3 linked regions of the Homo sapiens genome follow. The protein of the gene in region 2 interacts with the protein of the main gene of each other region in a biochemical or structural test. Each region holds a gene or a part of one and is shown on either strand. Other genes may lie near its edges. The genes, in order: EIF4EBP1, STK3 and MOB4.

Evidence for each region.
Region 1: of the proteins of STK3 (region 2) and EIF4EBP1, one has a biochemical effect on the other in vitro, tested with the Homo sapiens proteins (one study listed by BioGRID).
Region 3: of the proteins of STK3 (region 2) and MOB4, one has a biochemical effect on the other in vitro, tested with the Homo sapiens proteins (one study listed by BioGRID).

What each region holds. Positions count from the first base shown.
Region 1 is NC_000008.11:38,053,181-38,062,770, forward strand, and holds the end of EIF4EBP1 (eukaryotic translation initiation factor 4E-binding protein 1), read left to right. Parts: intron 1-3,900; coding exon 3,901-4,080; intron 4,081-6,723; coding exon 6,724-6,755; 3' UTR 6,756-7,185; downstream 7,186-9,590. UniProt on the Homo sapiens protein: Repressor of translation initiation that regulates EIF4E activity by preventing its assembly into the eIF4F complex: hypophosphorylated form competes with EIF4G1/EIF4G3 and strongly binds to EIF4E, leading to repress translation.
Region 2 is NC_000008.11:98,821,181-98,831,476, forward strand, and holds the start of STK3 (serine/threonine-protein kinase 3), read right to left. Parts: upstream 4,509-10,296; 5' UTR 4,361-4,508; coding exon 4,335-4,360; intron 1-4,334. UniProt on the Homo sapiens protein: Stress-activated, pro-apoptotic kinase which, following caspase-cleavage, enters the nucleus and induces chromatin condensation followed by internucleosomal DNA fragmentation.
Region 3 is NC_000002.12:197,545,587-197,555,844, reverse strand, and holds the end of MOB4 (MOB-like protein phocein), read right to left. Parts: intron 7,510-10,258; coding exon 7,430-7,509; intron 5,571-7,429; coding exon 5,459-5,570; intron 5,331-5,458; coding exon 5,199-5,330; 3' UTR 2,146-5,198; downstream 1-2,145. Other genes in the region: HSPE1-MOB4 protein, read right to left, coding at 5,199-5,330, 5,459-5,570, 7,430-7,509.

The sequences.
Region 1 (9,590 bases), about 61 Mb from region 2:
CTAATTTTTGTATTTTTAGTAGAGACAGGGTTTCACCGTGTTGACCAGGCTGGTCTTGAACTCCTGACCTCAGGTGATCTGCCTGCCTCTGCCTCCCAAAGTGCTAGGATTACAAGCATGAGCCACTGTACCTGGCCTGTTTTTTTGTTTTGTTTTGTTTTGAGACAGGGTCTTGTTCTGTCGCCCAGGCTGGAGGGCAGCGGCGCGATCTCAGCTCACTGGAGCGCAGTGGCGCCATCTCAGCTCACTGCAGCCTCTGCCTCCCAGGTTCAAGCGATTCTCCTGCCTCAGTCCAGAGTAGCTGGGATTACAGGTGTGTGCCACCACGCCTGGCTAATTTTTGTATTTTTGGTAGAGACGGGGTTTCACCATGCTGGCCAGGCTGGTGAAAGCAAGATCTTCAAGAAGTATTTGTATTCCCATGTTCATAGCAGCATGATTCACAATAACTGAGAAGTGGAAGCAACCCAGGTGTCCATCAGTCAGAGGAAAGGATAAGCAAAATGCGCGCACACTCTCAATGGGATATTATTCAGCCTTCAGCAGGAAGGAAATCCTATCACATGCTACAGTGTGGAGGGACCTTGAGGACATTATGCTAAGTGAAATAAGCCGGTCATGAAAAAGCAAATCCTGTATGATTTCACTATATAAGATACCTAGAGTAGTCAAATTCAGAGAGACAGAAAGTAGAACCCTGCTTGCCAGGGCCTAGAGGGAGTGGGGAAGGGGAGTTGTTGTAGAGTTTCAGTTTCACATGATGAAAACGTTTTGGAGATGATTGGCGGTGATGGTAGCACAACACCCTACCGAAAATGTTTAAGATGGTCAATGTTATGTGTATTTCACCACAATTTTTAAAAAGTCACCAGGGGCTGATGACCTTTAAAGAGGCTCTCCAGATGGTTGCTGGCCCCTGGGCGCTTCTTTGAGACTGTTGAATCTTTAACTCTTAGGTTTCACGCTATGATAAACAAACCAACAACAACAAAAAAAGTGTGGCTCATGTCTGTAACCCCAGCACTTCGGGAGGCTGAGGCCAGTGGATCACTTGAGGTCAGGAGTTCAAGACCAGCTTGGCCAACATGGTGAAACCCTGTCTCTACCAAAAAATACAAAAATTAGCCGGGCGTGATAGCACATGCCTGTTGTCCCAGCTACTGGGGAGGCTGAGGCGGGAGGATTGCTAGAACCCAGGAGGCAGAGATTGCAGTGAGCCAAGATTGTGCCACTGCATTCCAGCCTGGGTGACAGAGCAAGACTCCATCTCAAAACAAACAAACAAAAAGCAAAGTTGGGGGGAAACAAGAAGGGGGGCACTCTTGCCGAGTCTCAAAGATTAAGAAACAACAGAAAAAAAGTGGTCCCATCTGGAGCCAGGATGTCCAGCCACTTGTCCACTGAGTCCCCACCCCGCTGCCTGGACCCTGGGGTCTCTGGGCTTCCCTCCCCTCTGGGGAGGAGAGATTGTACAACCCCAAGCCTTGCAGAGTGGAGCAGTGCCACATCTGGCCTCTAGAACCAAAACAAATCTGGGTCACTTTTTAAAAAAAAGAGTTAGAAATTGGTCTTCCCTTACCTCCCCTCACTGTCACCCCAGCCCTGCAAAGAGAGGGCACCACTGCTCTCCATTTGTAATCTGGGCTCATAGGCACTCAGACCTAGAAGGTGCATGGGTCTTTATTTTACAGATGAGGAGATGGAGGCCCAAAACAGGGGGTGCAAGGAGCAAGGTGCATAGGGTCACACAGCTGACTGGGAACGGAGCCCAAATGCACCCTGGTTCTTTACACCCCTCCTCCTAAGAAACAGCTGTGCGCTGGAGTCCCATAGGCAATGAGCAGGGCTGTCAGCTTCAGTATCACTGCCTCTCCTGCAAGGGGACAGGAGAGTAAGACCAGTGACTGCCTGGAGGGGCCACAGCCAGACTAGAGGAACACAGCCAGCAGGTGAAGTTTATCTTTAGGTATCTCTCTGCATTCCTCTGCCCTTCAGCATCTCACGTCATCCTCAGCACAGAGCCCCGTTTCAGGAACTCACACTCAGACTCCGAGATGGAAATTGGTTCCTTTCCAGGGGTTTACAGAGTCCAGTGCTGAGCATCAAGAAATGAATCTCAATATGTACAACTATTATGGATCCATAAAAATTAAAAATCAAAAAAGTAAAATAAAGTGTAAGAAATGAATCTCAGCTGTTGGAATGCTACTCATCATAGCCCCTAAGTGAAGGAGAGATTTCAAGGTTATTGCTAAGGAAGGGCATTCCTGAAGTCCTTAAATCATGATTCCCAAACTTGGGTTATTCATATTTTATCTGCACAATTATTACCATACCTTGCATTCCACTTGTACAGATATTTAATATTTCTTTATATCACCTTAGCTTTTGAATTTAATTTACATTATTTTATTATAGAATCTATAATATATTATTATATTATTGTATATTAAAAGGAATTGCTATCACTACTATATATGGAACACCGGATTCACTTGCCATAAATAGAAGGTAGCTATAAAAAGATACAAAGGGGCCGGGCACGGTGGCTCACACCTGTAATCCCAGCACTTTGGGAGGCCGAGGCAGGCAGATCACGAGGTCAAGAGTTTGAGACCAGCCTGGCCAACATGGTGAAATCCCGTCTCTACTAAAGATACAAAAAATTAGCTGGGCATGGTGGCACGCACCTATAATCCCAGCTACTTGGGATGGTGGGGTAGAATTCCAAGGTCAGTGACACACTGGCAGGACACACTGGGGGCCTCACAAAGGAGGGGCTCAGCAGGAGAGCCCACCCTTCACTCCTGCCTCTGGCTCTTCTCCGCAAAGCCCAGGCATTTCTCTCTTTTTTTTTTGGAACTGTCTTTTTGAGATAGGGTCTCACTGCAGCCTGGACCTCCTGGGCTCAAGCAATCCTCCCGTCTCAGCTTCCCGAGTAGCTGGGACTACAGGCACGTACCCATCATGCCCGACTCATTTTAACATTTTTGTAGAGATGAGGTCTCTCTAAGTTGTCCAGGCTAGTCTCAAGCTCCTGGGCTCAAGCAGTCCTCCCACGGTGGCCTCCCAAAGTGCTGAGATTACAGGTGTGAGCTACCACACCTGGCAAAAGTTCTTATTTTTACTACTCTGGTTGAATCACAAGTATTTTCTGTTTGGTCATTTGTAAAATGCAGCTATTCTGGGTATCCCACAGGAGTGCTGTAAGGACAGGACTGAATAATGACTAGAAATGCATTTTTTCCACCGTGGTATGTGATTGTCATGGGTAATTAACACTAAGCCCAGGTGGGTGAGTGAGCTGAGGGGCTATAGGGACAGAGCACAGTGTGCACAGAGCTCTGGGAAGACACAGGTGCAGTTGGTGGCCTGCAGACCCCTTCCATTGGATCATTCCATGTGAAGGGGAGTTGGGGCCGTTTGGAGGTAGCAGAGTTCTGGGTGGCAGCCAGGCCCCCAAATAAGCCTCACTACTCTGGCTTTTTTTTTTTTTTTTTTATGAAAAGGAGTCTCGCTCTGTTACCCAGGCTGGTGTACAGTGGTGCAATCGGCTCACTGCAACCTCTGCCTCCCAGGTTCAAGTGATTCTCCTGCCCCAGCCTCCTGAGTAGCTGGGATTACAGGCTACCACCACCACGCTGGCTAATTTTTGTATTTTTAGTAGAGACGGGGTTTCACCATGTTAGCCAGGCTGGTCTCGAACTCCTGACCTCAGGTGATCCACCCATGTTGGTCTCCCAAAGTGCTGGGATTATGGGCATGAGCCACCGCACCCAGCCTCCTCTGGGTTTTTCAGGAGAATCTGCTGCCTCTACTGCAGCCACGCCTTTAAAAAGTGGAAAAACCGGCAGGCAAGAGGCTGCAGATGGCTTGACCAACCTCCCTGTTCCCTTCTAGGTACCAGGATCATCTATGACCGGAAATTCCTGATGGAGTGTCGGAACTCACCTGTGACCAAAACACCCCCAAGGGATCTGCCCACCATTCCGGGGGTCACCAGCCCTTCCAGTGATGAGCCCCCCATGGAAGCCAGCCAGAGCCACCTGCGCAATAGCCCAGAAGATAAGCGGGCGGGCGGTGAGTGTCGGGGCTTGGCCAGGCTCTACCTTGGGAAAGGGAATGTATGAGGCTCCTGGAGTCCATCCACTGGGGGCAATTCCAGGGAGGAGGAACAACAGGGACTCTGCCCTACCCTCTAAGGAGCAGCTCAGAGCCCAGAGGGTGAGAGTAGGGGTGGGGAGGTTGAACTCTTCATTGGTAGCAACTTTCCCCCTGAAAGGGGCCCAGGCACCTCAGGAAAGGTGATCTGGCACCTTTGGGTCATGTAATTAGCGGGGAGTTTGTTTGAAATGGCAGCGGCTGCACACAGCAACTTTCGTAAGCATGTGCCTCTGTATAATTGTCTCTGAAGCATTTCCACTTGGAACACACCCATGATGTTTGTGGTGCAAGAGACAAGTTATCAAAGACACAGTGTACTTGTCCTTTGGGAAATTATATGTCTACAAGATAAGAAATACATCCGGGATGCCTCCTGTTGGGCTGTTGGTCCCCTAGTGGATCTTCATGAAGGCAGGTAGAAACAATGCAGCCAGTTGTCTCTGCCGATTTGACATTTGGTAGCTGGGTCCTTCCTGCTGTCCCCACCTCCCGAGTAATTAGAGCAGCCACTGTGGTAGTGGTGTAAGTGAATGCACTCTTTGTGGCATCCTGACTGGCTTGGCAGAGTGTTGGAGTTCTCTGCTGCAAGATGATGCAGCATAAGCACTTCCGGGCAACTATAATCAGATTGGAACCCGCCGACCCTTCACCCGGAAGGCCGTACCCCAGGCCCAGACAGGAAGCAGCAGGGACCTCAGCTTGGCTGGCTCTGCTAACAGCAGCAGAATTAATCTCCCCAGGGCCTGCAGGACATGATTCATAATTACCTTGGGAACCTCACAGTACAAGACAGACAATAGTTGCCTGTGTCTTAGTCTGTTTTTTTATGGCTGTAACTGAATACCTGAGACTGGGTAATTTATGAAGAAAAATGGTTTATTTCTTACAGTTCTAGAGGCTGGGAAGGCCAAGGGCATGGTGCCCGCATCTGCTGGGCTTCTGGTGAGGGCCTCCTGCTGCATCATAACATGGCGGAAGGCATCACAGGGCAAGAGGGGCACATGAGAGAGAACCAAGCTGCCTTTTTATAACACTCTTGTGATAACTAGCCCACTCCTGTGGTAACCCATTAATCCAGGAATGGGCTAATCCATTCATGAGGACAGAGCCTTCATGACCCAATTACCTCTTAACGGCCCCAACTCTTAATACTGTTACATTGGGGATTAAGTTTCTGTATGAATTTCAAACCATAGCATTCCAGCCCTGGACCCCCCAAACTCATGTCCTTCTCATATACACATATATTAATTTGGTCCCCATATCCCCAAAGACTTAACACGTTGCAGTCCTAGCTCAAAAGTTCAAAGTCCAGAATTTCATCTGAATCAGACAAGACTCACAGCATGATTCATCTCAAGCTTAATTTCCTTCCAGCTGTGAGCCTGTGAAACTAAACAAGTTATCTACTTTCAAAAAATAGGGGCTGTCCCTGGCCCCTAAAAACATCAGCTGGTGGCCAGGCACAGTGGCTCATGCCTGAAATCCCAGCACTCTGGGAGGCTGAGGCAGGATGAATACTTGAGGCCAGAAGTTCAATACCAGCCTGGGCAACAATGCAAGACCCCATCTCTACATAAAATTTTAAAATTAGCCAGGCATGGTGGTGCATGCCTGTAATCCCAACTACTTGGGAGGCTGAGGCCAGAGGATCATTTGAGCCCAGGAGGTCAAGGCTGCAGTGAGCTATGATTGCGTAACTGCACGCCAGCCTGGCCAAGAGAGTGAGACCCTGTCTCTAAAGAAAAAAGCAAAAACAACAAGAGTCAGACGAAATGATATAGTCTGGATATTTGTCCCTGCCCAAATCTCATGTTAAATTGTAATCCCCAGTGTTGGAGGTAGGGCCTGGTGGGAGGTGTTTGGGTCGTGGGGACAGATCCCTCACAGCTTGGTGCTGTCCTCATGATAGTGAATGAGTTCTCTCGAGATCTGGTTGTTGTAAAGTGTGGGAGCGCCACTCCACCCTCTCTCTTGCTCCTGCTTCCTCCATGTGACATGCCTGCTCCCGCTTTGCTTTCCACCATGACGAAAAGCCCCCTGAGGCCTCCCCAGAAGCCAAGCTGAGGCCGGCGTCATGCTTGTACAGCCTGCAGAACCGCGAGCCAGTTAAACCTCTTTTCTTGGCTGGGCACGGTGGCTCGCACCTGTAATCCCAGCACTTTGGGAGGCTGAGGAGGGTGGATCATCTGAGATCAGGAGTTCGAGACCAGCCTGGCCAACATGGCAAAACCCCGGGTCTACTAAAAATACAAAAATTAGCTGGGTGTGGTGGTGGGTGCCTATAATCCCAGCTACTCTTTTGGGAGGCTTAGGTAGGAGAATCGCTTGAACCCAGGAGGCGGAGGTTGCAGTGAGCCGAAATTGGGCCACTGCACTCCAGCCTCGGAGACAGAGTGAGACTCCATCTCAAAAAAAAAAAACAAAAAAACAAAAAAAAACTTATTTTCTTTATAAATTACCCAACCTCAGGTATTTCTTTATAGCAATGAAAGAATGGCCTCATATACCAAGCATTCACCCATTGTTGACCTGGCCCTCTGTCCCCTCTCTCCCCAGGTGAAGAGTCACAGTTTGAGATGGACATTTAAAGCACCAGCCATCGTGTGGAGCACTACCAAGGGGCCCCTCAGGGCCTTCCTGGGAGGAGTCCCACCAGCCAGGCCTTATGAAAGTGATCATACTGGGCAGGCGTTGGCGTGGGGTCGGACACCCCAGCCCTTTCTCCCTCACTCAGGGCACCTGCCCCCTCCTCTTCGTGAACACCAGCAGATACCTCCTTGTGCCTCCACTGATGCAGGAGCTGCCACCCCAAGGGGAGTGACCCCTGCCAGCACACCCTGCAGCCAAGGGCCAGGAAGTGGACAAGAACGAACCCTTCCTTCCGAATGATCAGCAGTTCCAGCCCCTCGCTGCTGGGGGCGCAACCACCCCTTCCTTAGGTTGATGTGCTTGGGAAAGCTCCCTCCCCCTCCTTCCCCAAGAGAGGAAATAAAAGCCACCTTCGCCCTAGGGCCAAGAGTTGGGCCCCGTCTGAGCTTTTTTCAACTCTGTTTGGTAACTAACACCAGCTGCTATCTGTACAGTGCTGCTGCTTTTTTTTTTTTTTTTTTTTTGAGACGGAGTTTCACTCTTGTGGCCCAGGCTGGAGTGCAATGGCGCAATCTCAGCTGATTGCAACCTCCACCTCCTGGGTTCAAGCAATTCTCCTGCCTCAGCCTCCCGAGTAGCTGGGATTACAGGTGCCCGCCACCATGCCCAGCTAGTATTTTTTTGTATTTTTGTAGAGACAGGGTTTCACCATGTTGGCCAGGCTGGTCTCGAACTCTTGACCTCAGGTGATCCACCCGCCTTGGCCTCCCAAAGTGCTGGGATTACAGGTGTAAGCCACCGTGCCCAGCCTTGTACAGTGCTTCTAAAGCGTGGGCCTGTCCTTATTTGATTCTGACTCTGATCCTGTGGGTAAGTAGAACAACTGTTATCCTCACTTTACAGCTGAGAAGACTGGCACAAGAACAGGTAAAATCGTGCAGCTGCTGAATGGCACATGGGACTGGATTTGAGTCCTGCTACTCTTTTTTTTTTTTTTTTCCGAGACGAAGTCTTGCTCTGTCTCCCAGGCTGGAGTGCAGTGGCACAGTCCTAGCTCACTGCAGCCTCAAACTCCTAGGTTCAAGCAATCCTCCTGCTTCAGCCTCCTGAGTAGCTGGGACTACAAGTTCACACCACCACCTGGCTAAGTTTTTTGTGAGTAGAGATAAGGTCTTGCTATGTTGCCCAGGCTGGTCTTGAACTCCTGGTCTCAAGTGATCCTCCCACCTCAGCGTTCCAAATTGTTGGGATGACAGATGTGAGCCACCACGCCCAGCCCATACCCTGGTATTCTTGATCTCTTGTTTTTCAGTAGCAAGGCAGCTGCCTCGCTTCTGTGCTTTCTCCCCCTTCTCTCAACCCCAAGCCTGTCGAGTTTGGCACCTTCCCGTCAGGGCCCATTCCATGCAAGAGTCAAAGGGAAGAGCCCCTGCCTTGGCCAGTGTGGCATCTGATCTGCGGGCACTCGACCTTTGCCAATTGATCGCTTTGTGTGAGCTGTCATGTGTGGCACAAACACAGACAAGCTCTCTGCCTTGAAAATTTCATTGAAATGTAAGATTTGCCCGAAAGTAAAGGTAGCATAGGCTGGGCACAGTGGTTCAAGCCTGTAATCCCAGGATTTTGGGAGGCTGAGGTGGGAGGATTGATTGAGGCCAGGAGTGGGAGACCAGTCTGGGCAACGCAGTAAGACCCCGTCTCTACAGAAAATTTTTTAAGTAGCCAGACATGGTGGTGCACACCTGTGGTCCTAGCCACTCAGGAGGCTGAGGTGGGAGGAACACTTGAGCCCAGGAGTTCAAAGCTGTGGTGAGCCACGATTGTGCCACTGCACTCCAGTGACAGAGTAGAGGCTTCATGGAGGTGATGCTACAGCTGGACCCTGGGAATGAGTGGGTTGGGGGAGGCAGGGGCCCAGTGTTGCCAAGCTCAGATGGTCTTGGGGAGCTGGGGTGTTCAGGGAAGAGACATAGTAGCCTGCTTTGGTCAGAGCAGGCAGTTTGTATGGGTGAGAATGACTTTAACAAATGGCCAAAGAAGGGTGAGGTTTCTGAAGGTCTTGAATGGTAACTAGGCAGAGATCTTTGCTGAGAAGCAATAGGAATTTCTTATTACAGGGTATGCTGGTGGGTGGATGGCCTATGAACAAGAGGCAGTGGCTGGCATTTACTTAACAAGCTCCGAGCACATAGCACTTGTCCACCTGCTGTTTGGAGAGCAGCAGACCTTCAGTGGCCAAGTTGCTTGCTTGGCCTTTTCTATAGCTGGGTTGCAGCCCCCTTCCCTCACAAGGACTGAAAGCAGCTGAGTCCAGGTGCATGGTGATGTGTGGCAGGCCTGGCCTTTGGCACGTTGCCTCCAAGCACGCAGCAAAGTCTGTCCGTATGGATGGAAAAGAGAGGCTAGGGATGGGCCACCACTGGTGCAAAGAATAATGAAAGCTTCAAGTAGGCTCAAAGGAGAGATTGGGTCAGCCTTCCCAATCCCGTAACTTTCCAATAAAAGCATCATGCTCCAAGGCCAGGCACAGTGGTTCCTGCCTGTAATCCCAAAGCTTTGGGAGGTCAAGGTGGGAGGATCACTTGAGGCCAGGAGTTCGAGACCAGCCTGGGCAACATAGTGAGACCCCATCTCTACTACCAAAAAAATTTACAAATTAGCTAGACATGGTGGTGCACACCTGTAGTCCCAGCTGCTTGGGAAGCTGGGGAGGGAGGATCACTTTAGCTCAGGAGATCGAGGCTGCAGTGAGTTATGATTGCACTACTGCACTGCAGCCTGAGCAACAGAACAAGACCTTGTCTCTTAAAAAAAAAAAAACGCGGCCAGACGAG
Region 2 (10,296 bases):
GCTCCTGTCAGATCATCAGTAGCATTAGATTCTCATAGGAGTGCGAACCCTATTGTGCTGTGCATGCAAGGAATCTAGGTTGCACGCTCCTTATGATAATCTAACTATTGCCTGATGATCTGAGGTGGAAGTTTCATCCTGAAACCATTTCGCCCCCAACCAAACCATCTGTGCAAAAATTGTTTCCCACGAGACTGGTCCCTGGTGCCAAAATGGTTGGGGATCTATGATTTAATGAATTTCCCTTCCCAGAGGGAAATCCTTTTAATAACGACTTTGGCCAGCTTGGGCAACATGGCAAGACCTCATCTCTACAAATTAAAAAAAAAAAAAATTAGGTATGGTGGTGCGTGCTTGTGGTCCCAGCTAATCAGGGAGGCTGAGGTGAGAGGATCACCTGAGCACAGGGAGGTCAAGGCTGCAGTGAGCCATGATTGTGCCACTGCACTCCAGCCAGGGCGATAGAGTAAGACCCAATCTCAAAAAAAAAAAAAAAGTTAAAAAGAAAAAAAAGGACTTCTGAAGACCTCAGTGACAAGTATGTTAACGAAATCTAAGGAATCTAAAAACTACTCTGGTACCTCAAGTTGGTGACATGGGTGACCACATCTATTGCCTATGTTTAACACAAACCTTGTTAAGGAGACCAAATCAATGAATATGAGGGTGAGAGGTGCCTTAAAAATCATCTAGGTCTCTGAGTCATGATTCTTGAACTGGGCTACACACTGGAATCTCCAACTCCCAGAGGAGAAGAAGATGCCCAAAGAAGCAAATTTCAAAGTCAGTGACAAGGCCAGGCCTAATACCCATGCCTAACATTATGTGTTGATATGTGTACATACATACATATATATATACACACACATACATACACACACACACATACACACACACATATATATGTAACATACTAAAAATATAAAGGCATGTATGGGAAGGACAAATATCCAATTCATGTCAGTGATTACCTTTTGGGGGATGGGAAGGGAGTGTAATTGAGAAGAAATACACATGGTGGCTTCAAATGTATTGGTAATATTTTTATTAATATTTCTTAAACTGGATGGTAATACCTAAGTATCTATTAAATTAGGCTCTGTTCTTTTTTCTTTTTGTTTTGTTTTTATTTTTATTTTTGTTTCTTTGAGACAGGGTCTCACTTTGTCATCCAGGATAGAGTGCAGTGGCACAATCATAGCTCACTGAAACCTCCCACTGCTGGGCTCAAGCAATCCTCCCACCTCAGCCCCACAAAGTGCTGAGATTACAAGGCGTGCACCATCGCAGTAGGCCCTCATTATCTTCTGGATATCTAAAATTTTGTAATAAAATAGAATAAAAAGATGGTATATAATCAAATGTATATCACATTAGGAATTCAGTGAAATATCTCAGGCTAGAAAGTACTCAGAAAACATACTTGATGAGGTAGGCTTTGATGGAAGAATAAAACATAGATTATTCTTCAGGCAAAAAGTAACACAAACTTTTCTAAAGGAAAAATGTGAATAAAGGTAAAGCTGGGAGTACCCACAGCCTATAACATAAATAAAGAACAACGGGGGCCAGGCACGGTGGTTCATGCCTGTAATCCCAGCACTTTAGGTGGCCGAGGCAGGTGGATCATCTGAGGTCTGGAGTTGGAGACCAGCCTGGCCAACATGGCGAAACGTTGTCTCTACTAAAACACAAAAATGAGCTGGGCGTGGTGGCGCCCGCCTGTAATCCCAGCCTCTCAGGAGGCTGAGGGACGAGAATCGCTTGAATCAGGATGCCAGAGGTTGCAGTGAGCCGAGATTGTACCCCTCCATCTCAAAACAAAACAAAATAGTTTTGAAAACCACTGGACTAAAGCGTCCAGCTAGAAGGTACTGCTGCAATTCAAAAGTGAGGGTCATAAAACCATGGAATGGGTTTTATGGGGTAGTACTCTTGAGAAAGAAAACAGAAAAAATTAATCCACCAACTTTTTAATAGAAAATTTGATAGGCTATAGTGACAAACTAGATGGGATAATGAAAGAGTAAGACCTACCTGAAAAAATAAAAAATGCCAACTGAGCAGCAGCTTCTAGTCATACTTGAACATCAACGACATCGATAAGGCCATGTAAAAGTCAGCACTAAGGAAGTGTTATTCAAGGCAGAAAAGCAAAATGGCACTTTTATAAGGATTAAGAGCAGAATAAGCAACAGAGACCAGGAGATTACAGAAAAAGAGGACCACTACATCATGGAATGATAAGAAAGAGAGTTTCAAAAAGAGCCATCACTGTATACAACAAGAGGGTGCACAGCCTTTGTAGCCAATCAGATGCAGAATTCTGGCACTTTCTCCACTTGACCAAGTTATTTAACGTCTTTGAGCCTCATATAATAAGGAAAACATAAGTTAACAACTAACACTGTTGAACACATAGGGGCTTCAAATATATTTGTCAAATTTTATTTCTTAAGCTCAGTCGTGATACATAAATATTTATTAAATTAGTCCCCATTATCTTTTGTTGTTTTTGTTTTGTTTTTGTTTTTTTGAGACAGGGTCTCGCTCTGTCCCAAGTGCTTTACATATCACCTCATTTAATCCCCACAATACATTTCACAGATGAAGAAATTAAACTTAGAACTAGCATAATAAGTAGCAGAGCCAGGATTACTATTTCTTAGGATTTAAATAATGTATACTTAAATTTCCTGGCAAACAGGATGACCTCAAAACGAGTAGCTATATTTCATTATTAGGAGATAATAATCAATAGGGGCAAAACTGCCAGTAATTCCTGTCATAGCCTTCCATGTGGCAAACTCTCTCAACATCCTCATCTATAAATTAGGATTAATGCCTATAATCCAATCTACTCCATAGGGTTGCTGTGAGGATTAAATATTATGAATATGAAAATTCTATAAAAAATGTTGAGACATTCAAATATCAGGGATTGCTGTCACATATCTTTCGCCTTCAAAAATGCTTTTGCGGCATTTTTGTTCACTACTTCAAAATAAGACTCTGAATAAGCTAAAAATAAGTCTGTTAAAAGTGCAACCACCACTTTGAAAAGTATAAATCACCACAGAATTGCTGCCTACACCTGCCCCTGACTCCTCCAGGTTCTCTAATGTCTCCACAAGGGCAAGGATTCTCTTACACCTATAATGAAACTCTGATAACTTACAGTACAGCTAATCAATAGAGAGCTGCACTTCAATTCAGAGTTGTTCAAACTGGACTACTGTGTTTTCTCAGAGGTGCTCCTTCCAGTTCTTCCAGAAAAGAAAAAAGTGCCCAATTCTCTTATATTGTATTAAAACGGTGCCCAATGAGTAGAATGCAGGTAACTTACAAAATGCTAGAAAAGAATCTATCAATTGACTTGCTCAAGTGCTCTGACAGCAGGTCCCTTTTGGAAACTCCTTCACGACCCCCCCTTTTTTTCACCTGAACAGATGGCTTCCAGGCTTCAAGGCTCACATGTCTAGTCACACAATTCACAATAGCTCCCAAAGTTCCTAACTTTTCAATTATCCCATGTTCTTGAACACACCTTTCATCTAAAGATCTCTAGCTGTCAAAGCATACGAACTCTTTAATCTTCACAACAGCACTATCTGAGAGATTACTATCCTTATTTTATAAGTTAAAAATGAAAGACTGAGGTTAAATATTTTAGCAACATCAAACAATTCGTTAATTCATTCTTGGGGAGAGAGGAATACATATTATGAACTTCTGTCAATGGACAACCTAGATTTGGCTTCCTAAGATCATTGCAAATATTAGCTCAAACACATCCCACTCTTGTATGCATACATTTCCAACACAGGTGTCAAAGATTAAATATAAACTATTAATAACAGTAAATACCATACCAAAGCAGCACTATTTTTACACGCAAAACTATATTGGGGGAGGGGGTTCTAATTTAAACTTCCCACTGTCTTGCATCCATAAATACTTTTGAACTTGAGGGGGAAGGGGGAAGAACACCTGTCAGAGCAGCACATCCACAATGTTTTACAGACTGTGTAGCTATTAATATTTAATTCCTCCCGCCCCGGGAGGTCAGGCCGCAGGGAGCCCGGCGCTGCCCACCCGACTTTCCACGCGCCAGGCCTGCCGGCCGCAGGGGAGGCTCCGGCTCCCGCTCCCCTCAGGTCCCCTCGCCCGTGGACAGACGCGGCGGGACACTCGGACCCGCCTCCCGACCTCAGCGCGCCCGGCTCGGGGCCCGGCGGGCGGGGAGAGGCTCGCAGCAGGGCCTGGCCTAGCCACCCCCGCCCCGCGGCCGCCGGCGCCGCTTCCCTCCTTCTTCCCGCTCCCCGATTCGTTACCTCTTAGGCGCCGGCGGCTGCTCCATGGCGGCCGGGGACAGAGAGAGGGACCTGGTGGACGGCGAAGGCCGAAAGGAGGAAAGGAGCCGGGGCACCGGCCGGCCGAGCCTAGGGCACCACAGAGGGAAACTCTGGGAACTCGGACCAACTTTCCCGTAACTCCGCGGCGGATCTCCCTCCCGCTTAGGAGCGCGGCTCCTCCCGCCCCGCCCCGCCCCCGGCCGCCCCGCCCCGCCCCCGGCCGCCCCGCCCCGCCCCCGGCCGCCCCGCCCCGCCCCCGGCCGCCCCGCCCCGCCCCCGGCCGCCCCGCCCCGCCCCCGGCCGCCCCGCCCCGCCCCCGGCCGCCCCGCCCCGCCCCCGGCCGCGCCGGCCGCCAGCCTGCGGCGGCGGCCCAGAGAAGGTGGACGGAGCCGGGCACCGCGGCGGGGGGCGGAGCCTGCCGCGGCCTGGGTTGGCGGGCGGGGCCGGTGCCGCGGCGGGTGGGCGGGGCCGGGGACGAAGGCCTGGCTGGCCCCAGAGCCCCGTGACCGGGAAAAGGAGAAGGTTCCGCTAGAGCTAGGGGGCGAGGCCGGAGCCGCTCTAGGCTGGGGAAGGGCAAGTCCCTCTGAGCTGGCCCAGAGCTCCGCCCCTAGCCTGCCCTCACTACGGTTTGCCCTGATCCAATTTGACTCATTTCTTTGGCTTTCCCAACGACACATCCTAACATCGTGTGAATCCGTTTGAAGTATTACTTTCTCACTGCCCACGCTTCCCTCTCTAGTTCTGTTTATAATTATCGGTTATGTTTTCCCCCAGCCATTTGACATGTGTAGGCCACAGTACTAGGGATACTTCTGGAAATTCTTGTTTGATTTTTATTGTGGACAAGCTCCTCGCTACATTTCACAATAATTACATCTAATTACCGAGAAAATAATTCGTACAGTGAGATCTCTCGGTACACCAAATTCAGTTGCACTGGGCCCTTGCAGCTGTCCCATTGGGTAACCTGGCAAGCCTGTCACAAATTATGCTGCCAGGAAGAATACTCAAGAAAAGTTTGTTTCCTCCCCTCTTTGGTCCTCTCCCCCAACCTGATTCCAGCAGCCCTCATCCCATTGTAATCTGACCACTGCATGCATCCATATTGTGGGTATACTTTTAACCTTAAATTCCATATATACCTTTCACATAACAATATACAGCTGCTACATGAGTTTACTTGTTTTTGTCAGAAATTGTCAAGATGGGCCGGGCGCGGTGGCTCACGCCTGTAATCCCAATACTTTGGGAGGCCAAGGCGGGCGGATCACTTGAGCTCAGGAGTTCAAGACCAGCCTGGCCAACATGGTGAAACCTCGTCTCTACTAAAAATACAAAAGTTAGCCGGGCCTGGTGATGCGCCTGTACTCCCAGCTGCTTGGGAGGCTGAGGCAAGAGAATCACTTGAACCCGGGAGGCAGAGGTTGCTTTTAACCTTAAATTCCATATATACCTTTCACATAACAATATACAGCTGCTACATGAGTTTACTTGTTTTTGTCAGAAATTGTCAAGATGGGCCGGGCGCGGTGGCTCACGCCTGTAATCCCAATACTTTGGGAGGCCAAGGCGGGCGGATCACTTGAGCTCAGGAGTTCAAGACCAGCCTGGCCAACATGGTGAAACCTCGTCTCTACTAAAAATACAAAAGTTAGCCGGGCCTGGTGATGCGCCTGTACTCCCAGCTGCTTGGGAGGCTGAGGCAAGAGAATCACTTGAACCCGGGAGGCAGAGGTTGCAGTGATCCGAGATCGCGCCACTGCACTCCAGCCTGGGTGACAGAGCAGACCTTGTCTCAAAAAAGAAAAAGAAAGAAAGAAATTGTCAAGATGTAGAGTTACATAGAATTTTCTTGGAGGTTAGAACAATAAATATGAAGAGAATGTTAAATAAAGGAAACCAATTTGAAGAGAATGTTGAATAATGTGAATATTTGCCCAAATTAAACTTGACTATTAGCAGCTAATACAAGTTTAGTTTAGTCCTCTTTTTGCATTATTTTAAGTTTCACTATGTAATAAACTTACACTATTTTCAAACCATTATATTCTTTCCTAAATTTAGTTATTTTAAGACCATTCATTTTTGAAACTCTAATTCTGAGAACAAGAAAAAGGGTTTTTTTTGTTTTGTTTTTTTGAGACAGGTTCTCACTGTTCCCCAGGCTGGAGTGCAGTGGTGTGATCATGCCTCACTGCAGCCTCAACCTCCCGGGCTCAAGCAATCTTCCCACCTCTGCCTCCCAAGTAGCTAGGACTACAATGCCCGGCTACAAAATTTTATACTTGTTTGCATTTATTAAAGATCCACAGTCTGACTGTTCAGAAATAACAGGACAACAACAATTTTAAAACCTAAATATTTAAAATGTTAAAGCTGAGAAGAATCTTTGAAATTACTCCACTCTAACCCCCCCAACTCTCATCTTCACTTCCATGCCATACTCCCAGCTTTTTTTTTTTTTCTTTCACTCTTGTTGCCCAGGCTTGAGTGCAATGCCGTGATCTCAGGTCACTGCAACCTCTGCCTCCCTGGTTCAAGAGATTATCCTGCCTCAGCCTCCCTAATAGCTGGGATTACAGGCACCCGCCACCACGCCCAGCTAATTTTTCGTGTTTTTAGTAGAGACAGGGTTTCACTATGTTGGCCAAGCTGGTCTTGAACTCGTGACCTCGGGCAATCCACCCACCTCAGCCACCCAAAGTGCTGTGATTACAGGCATGAGCCACTATGCCAGGCTCACTCCCATCTTTTTGTGTTTCATCAGAGAAACCTCTTGAGGAAGGCTGGGCGAGGTGGCTCACACCTTCAACCCCAACACTTTGGGAATCCAAGGCAGGCAGATAGCTTGAGCCCATGAGTTCGAGACCAGCCTGGGAAACATGGTGAAACCCATCTCTACAAAAAAAAAAAAAAAAAAAAAAAAAAAACAAAAGAAATAGCTGGGCATGGTGGCATGCACCTGTAGTCCCAACTACTAGGCTTCAGTGAGCCATGATCAAGCCACTGCACTCCAGCCTGAGCAATAGAGTGAGACCCTGTTTCAAAAGAAAGAAAAGAAAGAAAGAAAGAGAGAGAGAGGGAGGGAGGGAGGAAGGAAGGAAAGAGAGAAAGAAAGAAAGAAAATAAATGATCCCTGAATTGTTTTACCAACAGCAATCTCCAGGGAGCCTTTCCCAGTCAAACCACCAGCATCATCACCCACTATCTGTCACATTTAAGTTGTGATAGAGATACTGTCTTGTATATATGTCCGTAGTACCCTGTGTTGGCTTTTGTATGAAACTTGTCACACTATATTGAAGTTCTGTTTATTAGGCTGTCATCCCAACCCAACTATGAGTTGATTGAAAGTTGAGCCATATCTTTATTCTCTATACCTTGCATAGCAAGTGCCTGATAAATCGTAAGGGCACTGGGCTGGATAGCATCCTTTTGGTCCTGCAGATTCATTCTCCATCCTTTTCCATCTGCTCTCTGCTCTGAGAGCTAATATGTATGGCTGACATCAGAAGCCCCTTGGCTTATGGTTGGGTCTGATGATAGACCCAGCAAGAGATCATCTGAGGGAGAAAGGAGGGTGAGGTCAGACTATTGGATGCCCTGGTTCCCTTCCTGTGAGGTGACCTAGGGCTAGCTGTGTTCCAGAGAATCATGGCTCTTTGCAAGGCAAACTACTCTACCTAATTATTCCTCCTTCCCCTTGACCCTTTGGGCCTGAGTATCATGGCTGCTCTGCTATTCCCTGGGTTTCTTCTCTATGTCCTATGTTCCCCTAACCTCAATCCTCAACTGATGCTTTGTAAATTAAACTCTTTTCAATTGACACTAATTTGATTGCACCTTCTAAAGGGCTTATGATCTTGACTGATACACCCATAAAGAATTGTGGAAGTAGGAGGAATACTATCAGAAAATAAATTTCTGAGGTCTTTCCTCAACTTGAAAAGGGAGAAGACTAATAATTATCATACGACTCCAATAGGATCAGACACTAGGCCTCCATTTTCTCATTAAACCCTGAAAACAACCTTGTGAAGTAGTTATTTCCATTTTATAGGTGAGAAAACTGAGGTTCAAAAGTGTGAAAGGAGTTACCCTAGGATAAACAGAATGTCTGTGTTCTAATCCAGGCCTTTAAGACTCCAAAGCTGGAACTTATTCCACTGTAGATCAGTCAACAAATATTTATTGAGCACTTAAGTATGCCAGGCACTGTTCTAGGTGCTGGATATTCATCAGTAAAGAAAAGAGACAAATAGACAAAAATCCCTGCCTTCAGGGGATTTACATTCTGGTTGGGGAAACATAATAAGATAAAAAAGTACCTAATGGGTCATGTTAGAGATTGAAAACTGGTAAGGAAGAAAAGTGAAATGGAAAAAGGGAATATAAAGTGGAGGGGAAGAGGCCGGACGTGGTGGCTCATGCCTATAATCCCAGCACTTTGGGAGGCCAAGGTGGGCGGATCACTTGAGGTCAGCAGTTTGAGACCAGCTTGGCCAACATGGTGAAACCCCGTCTCTACTAAAAAAATACAAAAATTAGCTGGGTGTGGTGGTGGGCACCTGTAGTCCCAGCTACTCAGGAGGTCAAGGCAGGAGAATGCGTGAACCTGGGAGGCAGAGGTTGCAGTGAGCCAAGATTGCGCCACTGCACCCCAGCCTGGACAACAGAGCAAAACTCTGCCTCAAAAAAATAAAAAGTAAATAAAAATAAAGTGGAGGGGAAGGGATGAAATTCAGGTAGGATGGCAAAGGAAGGCCTCAACGAGAGAGTGACTAAGGAAGTGGAGGCCAGAGCCATGCAGATAGCATGAATGTGAGGCCAAGGGAATGTTAGAATGTGAGGCCAAGGGAACAATAAGTGCTAAGGCCCAGAGGCAGGACTGTGCCTGGTGTGTTGTGTGTTACTCAATAAAGGAATTGTTTTTCTCCTGAATTACTTAGAAGAAGAAAAAAAAATGCTTCAAGCTTCTGTTTTACTTTGTCTGTTGAAAACCAACCTGAAGATTCCAGGAAGAAAGCATAGAAGTCACCATTCAAACTGCAAATAAGAGGCAGCAGCATTCATGAACAAAGGAAAGCTGCAGGAACATTTGAGATACAGGTAAGGGTCACCCAGCTTCACTTAACTGTGAAAGTAAGGTAATCGGCCAGGCGCGGTGGCTCACGCCTGTAATCCCAGCACCTTGGGAGGCCGAGGCGGGCAGATCACGAGGTCAGGAGATCGAGACCATCCTGGCTAACAAGGTGAAACCCCATTTCTACTAAAAATACAAAAAATTAGCCAGGCGTGGTGGTGGGCACCTGTACTCCCAGCTACTCGGGAGGCTGAGGCAGGAGAATGGCGTGAACCCGGGAGGCGAAGCTTGCAGTGAGCCGAGATAGTGCCACTGCACTCCAGCCTGGGCGACAGAGCAAGACTCTGTCTCAAAAAAAAAAAAAAAAAAAAAAGGAAAGTAAGGTAATCTGTTTCTGCTTCCAACAGCTCCATTTGGAATCGAGATTAAATATACACTTTAATTATACTAGCAAACAGCTGATTACAATTCTCAGTTGAGTGCTCTAAGAGAAATGGGAAAGAAATCTGCAATTTGAGATCCAGTGCCTTTGAATAACAAAAAGCATACGTTCTTTGTAACTGAATACGTACACCACCATGTTTAAAATATTAAGATAGAAACATATTAAGGTAAAAATTTTTCCTTGTCATACTAGTTGCAGCTATTCATTGAAACTACAACTTTGTATTTCTCTTAGGCTGGAGTGTAGTGACACAATCAAAGCCCACTACAACCTTGAACTCCTAGGCTCAAGGAATCCTCCTGCCTCAGCCTCCCAAGTAGCCGGGACTATAGGCATCCACCACCATGCCCAGCTAAGTTTACTTTTGAGTTTTGTAGAAACAGAGGTCTCACTATGTTACCCAGACTGGTCTC
Region 3 (10,258 bases), on a different chromosome or scaffold from region 2:
CTGATACCACCAGTGTGCACCACCATACTCAGTTAATTTTTTAAATTTTTTGTATAGACAAAAATTGGGGTCTCACTATATTGCAAAGGCTGGCTCAAACTCCTAGCCTTAAGCAATCCTCTGGCCTTAGCCTCCCAAAATGCTGAGATTACAGATGTGAGCCACTATGCCCAGTCATCAAAAATATTTAATATCAGCAAATACTTGTAGGGATACAGATAATTATTTTACATAAAGCATACTGTATAAGCATGTTCCTGATACAAAAAAAGGCAGAGATAATACTATAACCTGTAACATAAACTAGAAGTAAATATTTTTAATTGTTATATAAGATATAGGTGGCTCTCATGAGGTCCACCCAAAATAAAATAATAAATATGCTATTTGGCTGGGCGCAGTGGCTCATGCCTCTAATCCCAACACTTTGGGAGGCCAAGGCCGGTGGATCACCTGAGGTCAGGAGTTCGAGATCAGCCTGGCCAAAATGGTGAAGCTCTTGTCTCTACTAAAAATACAAAAATTACTCGGGTGTGATGGTGCGGTGGTGCAGGCCTGTAGTCCCAACTACTTGGAAGGCTGAGGCAGGAGAATCGCTTGAACTTGGGAGGAGGAAGTTGCAGTGAGCCGAGATCACACCACTGCACTCCAGCCTGAGTGACAAAGGAGTGAGACTCCATCTCAAAAAATAAAATAAAAAAAGATAAATACACTACTTATGGAATTAAAAACTGCTTTTAACAAGGTTTATGAGACAAATCCAGATCAGCATATTATCTTGATCTTATGAAAAAATGAACAGTTCACTAGTTTTAAATATTGATGTCACAGTTAATCCTAGAATCATCACTTAATTGACATACTTCATGGATTTAAGTTCACGGTGTCAATTTTTTCTTTTCTTTTTTTTTTTTTTTTGAGATGGAGTCTTGCTCTCTCATCCAGGCTGGAGTGCGGTGGCACAATCTCAGCTCATTGCAACCTCCACCTCCCAGGTTCAAGAGATTCTTGTACCTCAGCCTCCCAAGTAGCTGGGTTTATAAGTGCGTATCACCACACCCAGCTAGTTTTTGTATTTTTAGTAGAGACAGGGTTTCATTTTGTTAGTCAGGCTGGTCTCGAACTCCTGACCTCAGGTGATCCACTGGCTTTGACCTCCCAAAGTGCTGGGATTACAGGCATGAGCCACCACGCCCGGCCAATGTTTTTATCGTTTACAAATTTAGGTTAATACGAAAATTTAGTATTCTCTTTGCTTAATTACATTAGGTGCTCACACTTGATATGAAGCTTTGTGTACTATAAAAAAGTAGGCCGGGTACTGTGGCTCACCCCTGTAATCCCACTACTTTGGGAGGTCGAGCCAGGCTGATCACTTGAGGTCAGAGTTCAAGACCAGCCTGACCAGTATGATGAAACCCCATCTCTACTAAAAATACAAAAATTAGCCGGGCGTGGTGATGCACACCTATAGTCCCAGCTACTCAGGAGCCTGAGGCAGGAGAATCACTTGAACCCAGGAGGCAGAGGTTGCAATGAGCCGAGACTGCGCCACTATACTCCAGCCTGAGTGACAGAACAAGACTCCGCCTAAAAAAAAAAAAGTAGCAGAAAAGTCATACAAATGAAGAGTAAGGCTCCACAATGAACCTATTATTAGATAGGTAATCTAACCCTCTAGAGGATTCACTTGGTAGCTTTCCGGTTTCATAGTGTACTCTATACTAATAATGCATATTTTTTCAGGAAAACAGATTTGAATGTTCTTATCATCTCAAATAAACTGCTAAGCATATTGCACAAATACGTTTTTTTTTTTTTTTGAGACGGAGTCTTACTCTGTCGCCCAGGCTGGAGTGCAGTGGTGCAATCTCGGCTCACTGCAACCTCCACCTCCCAGGTTCAAGCTATTCTTCTGCCTCAGCCTCCCATGTAGATGGGATTACAGGCATGCATCACCACACCTGGCTAATTTTTGTATTTTTTTAGTAGAGATGGGGTTTCACCATGTTGGCCAGGCTGGTCTTGAACTCCTGGCCTCAAATGATCTGCCCACCTTGGCCTCCAAAGGGCTGGGATTACAGACGTGAGCCACTACATCTGGTCCATATGTATTGTCTGTTAACAATGAGATGCTTGAAGAAATAAAAATCAACTACTTTTACTAAAATATTCGCATAGCATGGAAGAACTACACAAAGAAACCTTTAGCACATTCAACAAGGATTCACAAAATAAAGTATATACAATTTAAAATTTAGCTGCTCAAAAAAGATGTCATCATATAGACAGTAGGGCAAAGTACTCACATAAAAAACTTAGTTCTACTATTACAGTGAATTTGACATCAACCAATAAATGTGTTTATAATCGTAACACAGTCCTTACTAACAATGTAATCAAGGATTTTTTTTTTTTGAGACGGAGTTTTTGAGACGGAGTTTTGCTCGTTACCCAGGCTGGAGTGCAATGGCACGATCTCAGCTCACCGCAACCTCCACCTCCCGGGTTCAAGCGATTCTCCTGCCTCAGCCTCACGAGTAGCACCACGCCCGGCTAATTTTTGTATTTTTAGTAGAGACAGGGTTTCTCCATGTTGGTCAGGCTGGTCTCGAACTCCTGACCTCAGGTGATCTGTCTGCCTTGGCTTCCCAAAGTGCTGGGATTACAGGCGTGAGCCCCTGTGCCTGACCAAGGATTTCTAATTGTATTCTGATAGTAAAAGTTGTTAAGTCATCAAGAATTTAACTGAGAAACTGTTCTAGAAATCCAAATTTGACATCTCAAGTCAGAGAAAAGGAAATGTATACACACAAAAGAAGGGTTACTTATGGGAACATAAATAGTTAAAAGTTAGCTACTTTCCCAGATGTGATAGGAGAAAAAGAATGAATTGACTATACGATCTTTTGGAAAGAAAAGCCTAAGTTTACCTTCGGATATACATAGGGTAATTCAAACAAAAAGTGGAGCCTAACTTCCTTATCACACAGAACTGTCTTGTTCCCCTCTTAGAACACTTACTTTTATAAATCAATGGTTTGCCAGGCTCATTAATTTTTTAGTAGTATTTATGTATATATAAGTACATTTTCAAAATTCTGAAAACAGTATTAAGGAAAAACAGGAACTGTTTCACTTAGGTCTTACCTAGTATAGTAGTGAATCAACTTCACAATTAGTAAGATTATCAACATGAATACAAAAGCAAGACTACAAACTGATTATTTTCTTTTGGAGATGTTTTATGATCAATTCCAAACATACAGTACAGGGAAGGTGAAATGAGTAAGAAAAAAAAATCATATTTAAGTCCCCGTTAACACTAAGCCATATTATTCAAAATGTGTTTCAAAATACTCAGCCAGATCACCAAATCTCAGTCACTACCTTAGTATAAATATTCACTAAGAAAATAGTCAAGCAACAGAAATCCATTGTGAGACACCATCTAGAGAGAACAGCTACACTGCTATATATAATTTATTAACTTAGTAGTTTAGTTTCTCAATATTTAGCAAGTTTAAAAATTACCATTACCATTGGTTTATAGTGCCATTAATATAAATCCATAATTTCAAAGTCATCATTCCTTTCACTGTGAACTAAGACTTCTTAAAAGATAGTTGTGGGTTGGGGAACAGTAATGACTGTAGCTGATGGGCAGTGTTCAAAGCCAAAAAGACTGGCAAGCTTGGAAAGGCATACACTATACATACACACACTCTCAGTATACTACTGTTCCCCTTATTTTTGCTGTACATTCTTGTCTGAAAAGATGGTATAAATTATTCCCTTAAATTTGAAAAAACAATTAAGATGAATACATTTTCATCTTCAAAATTATCCTTCTAAATAAAAAAGTTCCTCATGTTTGTTAAATCTGTTCAAAAGTTGGATTTAAATACTTTCTTCACAACATGTACAATGTTTTCACCCTTACTGCCTCATTACAATCAGTTTGGCAATAAGACCTCCAGTGCTTTATCAAAAATGGCATTCAATAGATTATAAGATTGTTAAATCTGCATTTCAATCATTCTTACCACAATGAATTATAACAAAGTCCAAAAAAATGTATGACTATTCATCAACACCCTTGGAACCTATGAATTATTGCAAATAATCTCACACGTGCATGTAATCCAAACATAAACTTCGTGGGAGAGGGGGTGTAAAATAAATACTATGGTATTTCTTCAATTCTATTTAATGCTGCCTAGCTGGTTAAATGAAAGATTAATATATTACTAACAGGAAGAGTCAAACTATTTTAAGGACTGTTTTCTAAGTAGAACAATTTTGCAAAACAAAGATAAGCAAGAGCCTATGCAAATACATTTTCTTGTAGTGTAATGTAATTGCTAATATGAGGTATAATCTGTAAGCAATTAATACAAATATAAATAGGTATAAGCCACCACTAACTCAGTCTGGTGAAAAGCTTCTCAGCTAAAGTAGTTTGAAGATAAGGTTAAGGGAAATGAGAAGGGGTGGACAGGGCAGGTTTCCAGTGGGAAAATAATTTATGTGCCTTACCATTGTGATCATCCTGTATGTACCAGTCCGTTGTTGCAGAACGGTAAATCCTTTCCAAGTATGTTATACTTTATGTAGCACAGTAAAATTATTTAAGTATTACTAATGCTTCATTTGCATTTGTATTTAGATATACACATAATTATATATGCATATCAAAAACTATAAACAGAATTTTAAAACACTTTTATCTCAATTGGGGAAAGTTAACAGGTAAGACAAAACTACGTACTACAGAATTTTTTAGGATATCTAAACTCAAGGTAAAACCAATAGAAAACATTTCTACCTCTTTAGTAAATGGCTTGTGTGAAACCTCAAGCTCTCCCTCATTTTTTTTACAGATGGGTTTGTCTGATGAGGATTGTGATCCAATGATTGTTTAGCAGCAATTTTACCAAACTGTAAATTCTTTTATTAACAGGCATTATAAACAGATAATACTAATCTTATTTAAAAACCATGAGTGCCACACTGGTGAATATACAGCTTATGAATAACTTAAAAAGTATTTCCCATTTTAAAAGGCAAACCCAGCATACAAAAACCTATACTAAACAAAGAAGCTATAATATGGATACATGATTGATGTGTCTAAAATGATATATACAGTACATAATGTTAATTATATGATCAGTACATTTTTCCTATGATTCCCTTCATGCTTCACTTTCCCCAGAAACTGAATTCTGTACTTCCTCTTCTAAAATTGGTACAATCAGGTTATCCTTGGACATCAAATTGTATTTCATCACAAACTTAGTAAACCGATGACACAAAAATGTTTCATTCTGTAGAGAGGAAGACAAAAATGTTATTTTAATTCACTATCCCAAACTAAAAGACTAGAAATAACATCAATATATATTACTGTTACACTGATAAGAATGCATCAAGATAATCAGTGAAATATACTTACTTCATATTCATCAAATATCTGCCGATGATGAAAATAAGCATGTGAAAATATTCTGTAAATCCTACGGCATACTGATCCTAGTTTCGCTACAGATGATTCCTTTATGCTAACCCTAGAAGTAGAAAAGAAACCATAGATTCTTAGAACTGGATAGAATCTTAGGAACAATATAGTCCAATTTCTCGCTTACAAGTGTAGAAACTGACACCTAGGGAAAATAAGCGACTACTCCAAGGTCACACTGCGAGTAAATGCCTGGAGCCCCTGCTCCTCAGTTCTAGGCCAGTGTTCTTTCTACCTAATCACAGGGCCTAACTTAAATTCAGCATTATAGTTTTGAAACTTTGTAAAAGTTTAATGCAGTTAGAATAAATCCCTGACATTTCAAAATTTACTATAACATCTATTTCCAACATTAATACATTGTCCACTAGAGGCGATTGAAAACTCCTGAAAGGAATTATTGTTTTATTTTACAGAACTAGGTTATTCTTTCCTTTTCTTTTCTTTTTTTTTTTTTTTTTTTTAGAAATTAAGGCCAGGTGTGGTGGCTCACGCCTGTAATCCCAGCACTTTGGGAGGCCAAGGCAGGTGGATCATCTGAGGTCAGGAGTTCGAAACCAGCCTGGCCAACATGGTGAAACCCCGTCTCTACTAGAAAATACAAAAATCAGCCAGGCGTGGTGGCAGGCACTTGTAATCCCAGCTACTCATGAGGCTGAGGCAGGAGAAACGCTTGAACCCAGGAGGCAGAGGTTGCAGTGAGCTGAGATTGCGCCACTGCACTCCAGCCTGGTTGAGCAAGACTCCATATAGAAAAAGAAAAACAGAGAGAGAGAAATTAAAATTGTTTTTTTAAAATTGAAATTTTCTGCATATTTCTGATATCCTTTTTTAAAATATGTATACACAGAATATTAAGGTCAAAAGTCAGTATTTTTCTTAACATATTTTATATGAGCTCTTTGAAGCTAATCATATTTGGTGGGGGAAATCTCCAAATCTATCCACCTGGTAACAAATACCTTAATAAAATAAAAGGCAGTCACAAACTTCACCGATAATATATTACATGTACAGACTTCTCAGATCTTAAAAATCAATGAGCAAGGATAAGGAATCCTTCAAAAACAAATAAGAAAGTCTGCTCTTTTTTTTTTGAGACAGTTTCGCTCTTGTTGCCCAGGCCGGAGTGCAATGGCGCGATCTCGGCTCACCACAACCTCTGCCTCCTGGGTTCAAGCGATTCTCCTGCCTCAGCCTCCCAAGTGGCTGGGATTACAGGTACTCGTCACCATGCCCAGATCATTTTGTATTTTTAGTAGAGAAGGAGTTTCTACATGTTGTTCAGGCTGGTCTCGAACTCCCAATCTCAGGTGATCCGCACGCCTCGGCCTCCCAAAGTGCTGGGATTACATCCGTGAGCCACTGCGCCCAGCCAGAAAGTCTGCTCTTTAGGCATACTACATAAAGGGAGGTCGAGTCTAACTAACATAGAGATTCAAGTGAGCAAGTATATACATATCCCAACTCTAAAGCATGAGAGGGAGAGCTCTGCAGAATGACATATATGAACAGGTACTAGCCTTAGACTGAACTGGCCTTGAGCTTTGACAGCCAAGTTCTGCTGTTTAACCACAGTCCTAATTTCAAAACTTGAATAAACAAGCCAAAATACAACAGCTAAAAAAAAAAATACAAAAATGCATTAACGAGCAACCTAATTTTACTTTTAAAATACTAATCTTTTATTTTATTATTATTTATACTTTAAGTTTTAGGGTACATGTGCACAACGTGCAGGTTTGTAACATATGTATACATGTGCCATGTTGGTGTGCTGCACCCATTAACTCATCATTTAGCATTAGGTATAGCTCCTAATACTATCCCTCCCCCCTCCCCCCTAAAATACCAATCTTATAAATTAACTCTAAAATGTTTAACACTATGTTTAAAAGTTTCGATTACCTGCTGGGAAAATATTTATTGCTATTCAGAAGACATGCAGCACCATCAAGTGTGTGTCTAGTATAGTCTATAGCAGGACACTACAAAAGAAAGAATATAGAAATGCATCAACAAAGAGCTCTCTCTTAAGTTAGATATATTCATTATATGGGTATACCTTATTCCAAAGACATGAGCATGTTCTAAGAAAAAAGTTCCTTACAATTTCCGAATGCTTGTAAAATATAATGTTATATTAATAAGTAAGGTTTATTATCCCCTTGAACCATATCACAATTCTAGATGATACATAAACCAGTCTCCCATTTTTATTCCCAACATCGTACCTACAAGAAAACAACAATTACAGACAAGAAGAATCCTGATTTATCTCTGGTATCTCCAGGGATGCCTTCTTATATCCTAAACAATATTCCTTATTATGTCCCTAGCACTCTATTATCAATCTAGCAGCCCTCTAAAGAACTTTCTCCCAGATCACCTTTGAATTTTAACATGAAATATCAAAGTTTCCTTATATTTTAATAAATCTGACTTATTCTGTTCCATTTATCAGAAACAATGAAAAAAAGAAACAATGAAACACTGTCTCATGGCAACTCAGTAAATTTATTAAAGGAAAAATAAAACTGCAAAGTAATTGTCCTCATCCAGTCCTCCTGAGGGCAGACAGGGAGCAACATCAAGGGGAAAGCAGTCTAGAAACAAACCAGGGAGTCAACCAGAAGGAAAAAACAACTAGAGGAAGGAGTAACAATGACTGTAGCTCAAAGACTCTACCCAGTAATTAGGTTATTTTTCAAGTTTGAGACTGAAGCTGTCACTTAGAAATACGGTTTAGTAACTACTAAATATGGCTTAGTGCCGTGGCACTAAAAAATTACCTAATAAAAAAGAAGTATTTTTCTAACAATATATCCACAGGAATTTCTGATTAGTGGACTCCTTGCCAAAAACAGTACCATGAGCAATATTTATTGAAAAAAACTACCTTTCTCCAGATATATGACCACAGATGAGTTGGTCAAAAGCAAATATCCCAAGTAACTGTATTTCTCATATTTGTCATTTGGGTATACCATGAGACAGTTTTACAACCTTTAAACCAGAATCATCAACAGAAATACAGCAGACCCTTGAACAACACAGGTTTGAACTGCGTAAATCCACTTATGCTCAGATTTTCCCAGCAACGGCAAGACCAACCCCACTTCTTTCTCTTTCTCCTCAGCCTACTCAACGACATGAACACAACAAGGAAGACCTTTACAATGATCCACTTAATGAATGGCAAATATATTTTCTCTTCCTTACGATTTTCTTTAAAAAAAAGAAAGAAAGAAGGTCTCACTATGTTGACCAGGCTGGTCTCGAACTCCTGGCCTCAAGCGATCCTCCCATCTCAGCCTCCCAAAGTGCTGGGTTTACAGGCATAAGCCATCACGCCCAGCCCCTTATGATTTTCTGAATAACATTTTCTCTAGCTTCCTTCATTGCAATACACTATATAATACACAGAACATACAAAATGTGTGTTAATCGACTGTTATCGGTAAGGCTTCCAGTCAACAGTAGGCTATTAGTAATTAAGTTTTGGGGGAGTCAAAAGTTAGATACTCAGATTTTCAGCTGCACAGAGGGTTGGGATCCCAATCCCGGAGTTGTTCAAGGGTCAACTGTATAATGCAAGCCATATATTTAATTTTAAATTTTCTAGGCCCAATGTGGTGGCTCACGCCTGTAATTCCAGCACTTTGGGAGGCCAAAGTGGGAAGATCACTTGAGTCCAGGAGTTCAAGACCAGCCTAGGCAACACAGGGAAATGCCCCTATCTCTACAAAAAATTTGAAAAATTAGCCAGACATGGTGGCACTATGATTGTAGTCCCAGCTACCAAGAAGGCTGAGGCAGGAGGATTGCTTGAGCACAGGAGGTCAAGGGAGGTAAGCCAAGATCAGGCCACTGCATTCCAGCCTGGATAACAGGGTAAGATTTCGTCTCAAAAAATTAATTAATTAACTTTCTAAGAGATACATTAAAAAGGGGATAACGTGAGGCCGGGCGCAGTGGCTCACGCCTATAATTCCAGCATTTTGGGAGGCCGAGGCAGGTGGATCACAAGGTCAGGAGATCAAGACCATCCTGGCTAACACGATGAAACCCCATCTCTACTAAAAATACAAAAAATTAGCTGTGCGCAGTGGCAGGCACCTGTAGTCCCAGCTACTCAGGAGGCTGAGGCAGGAGAATGGCAAGAACCCGGGAGGCGGAGCTTGCAGTGAGCCAAGATCGCGCCACTGCACTCCAGCCTGGGCAAGAGTGTGAGACTCCGTCTCAAAAATAAAAATTAAAAAATAAAAAATAAAAAGGTAACGTGAAAGAGGTGAAATTAATTTTAATATTGTAGTTTGACCCACTATATCCAAAATAATACCATTTCAGCAGGTAATTGATATAAAATTAATGGGCTACTTTTTGACTTTTAAGATATAATTGATACAACTAAAATTTACTCTTAAAAATTCAGTAGTTTCTAGTATATTCACAAAATTCTGCAACCATTACCACTAAATTTCAGAACATTTCAGCATCCCAAAAAGAAACCTTGAACCAATTAGCAGTCACTTCCCATTCTCTCCTTCCCCCAGCCCTAAGCAACAACCAACCTAATTTCTGTTTCACAGGATTTGCCTATTCTGGATATTTCATTAAAATGAAATAATATAATAAGTGGCATTTTGTGTCTGGCTTCTATTATGTTTTCAAGGCTTATCCATGGTGTAGTATGAATCAGTACTTCATTCCTTTTTTTAAAATTCAAAACTTTTT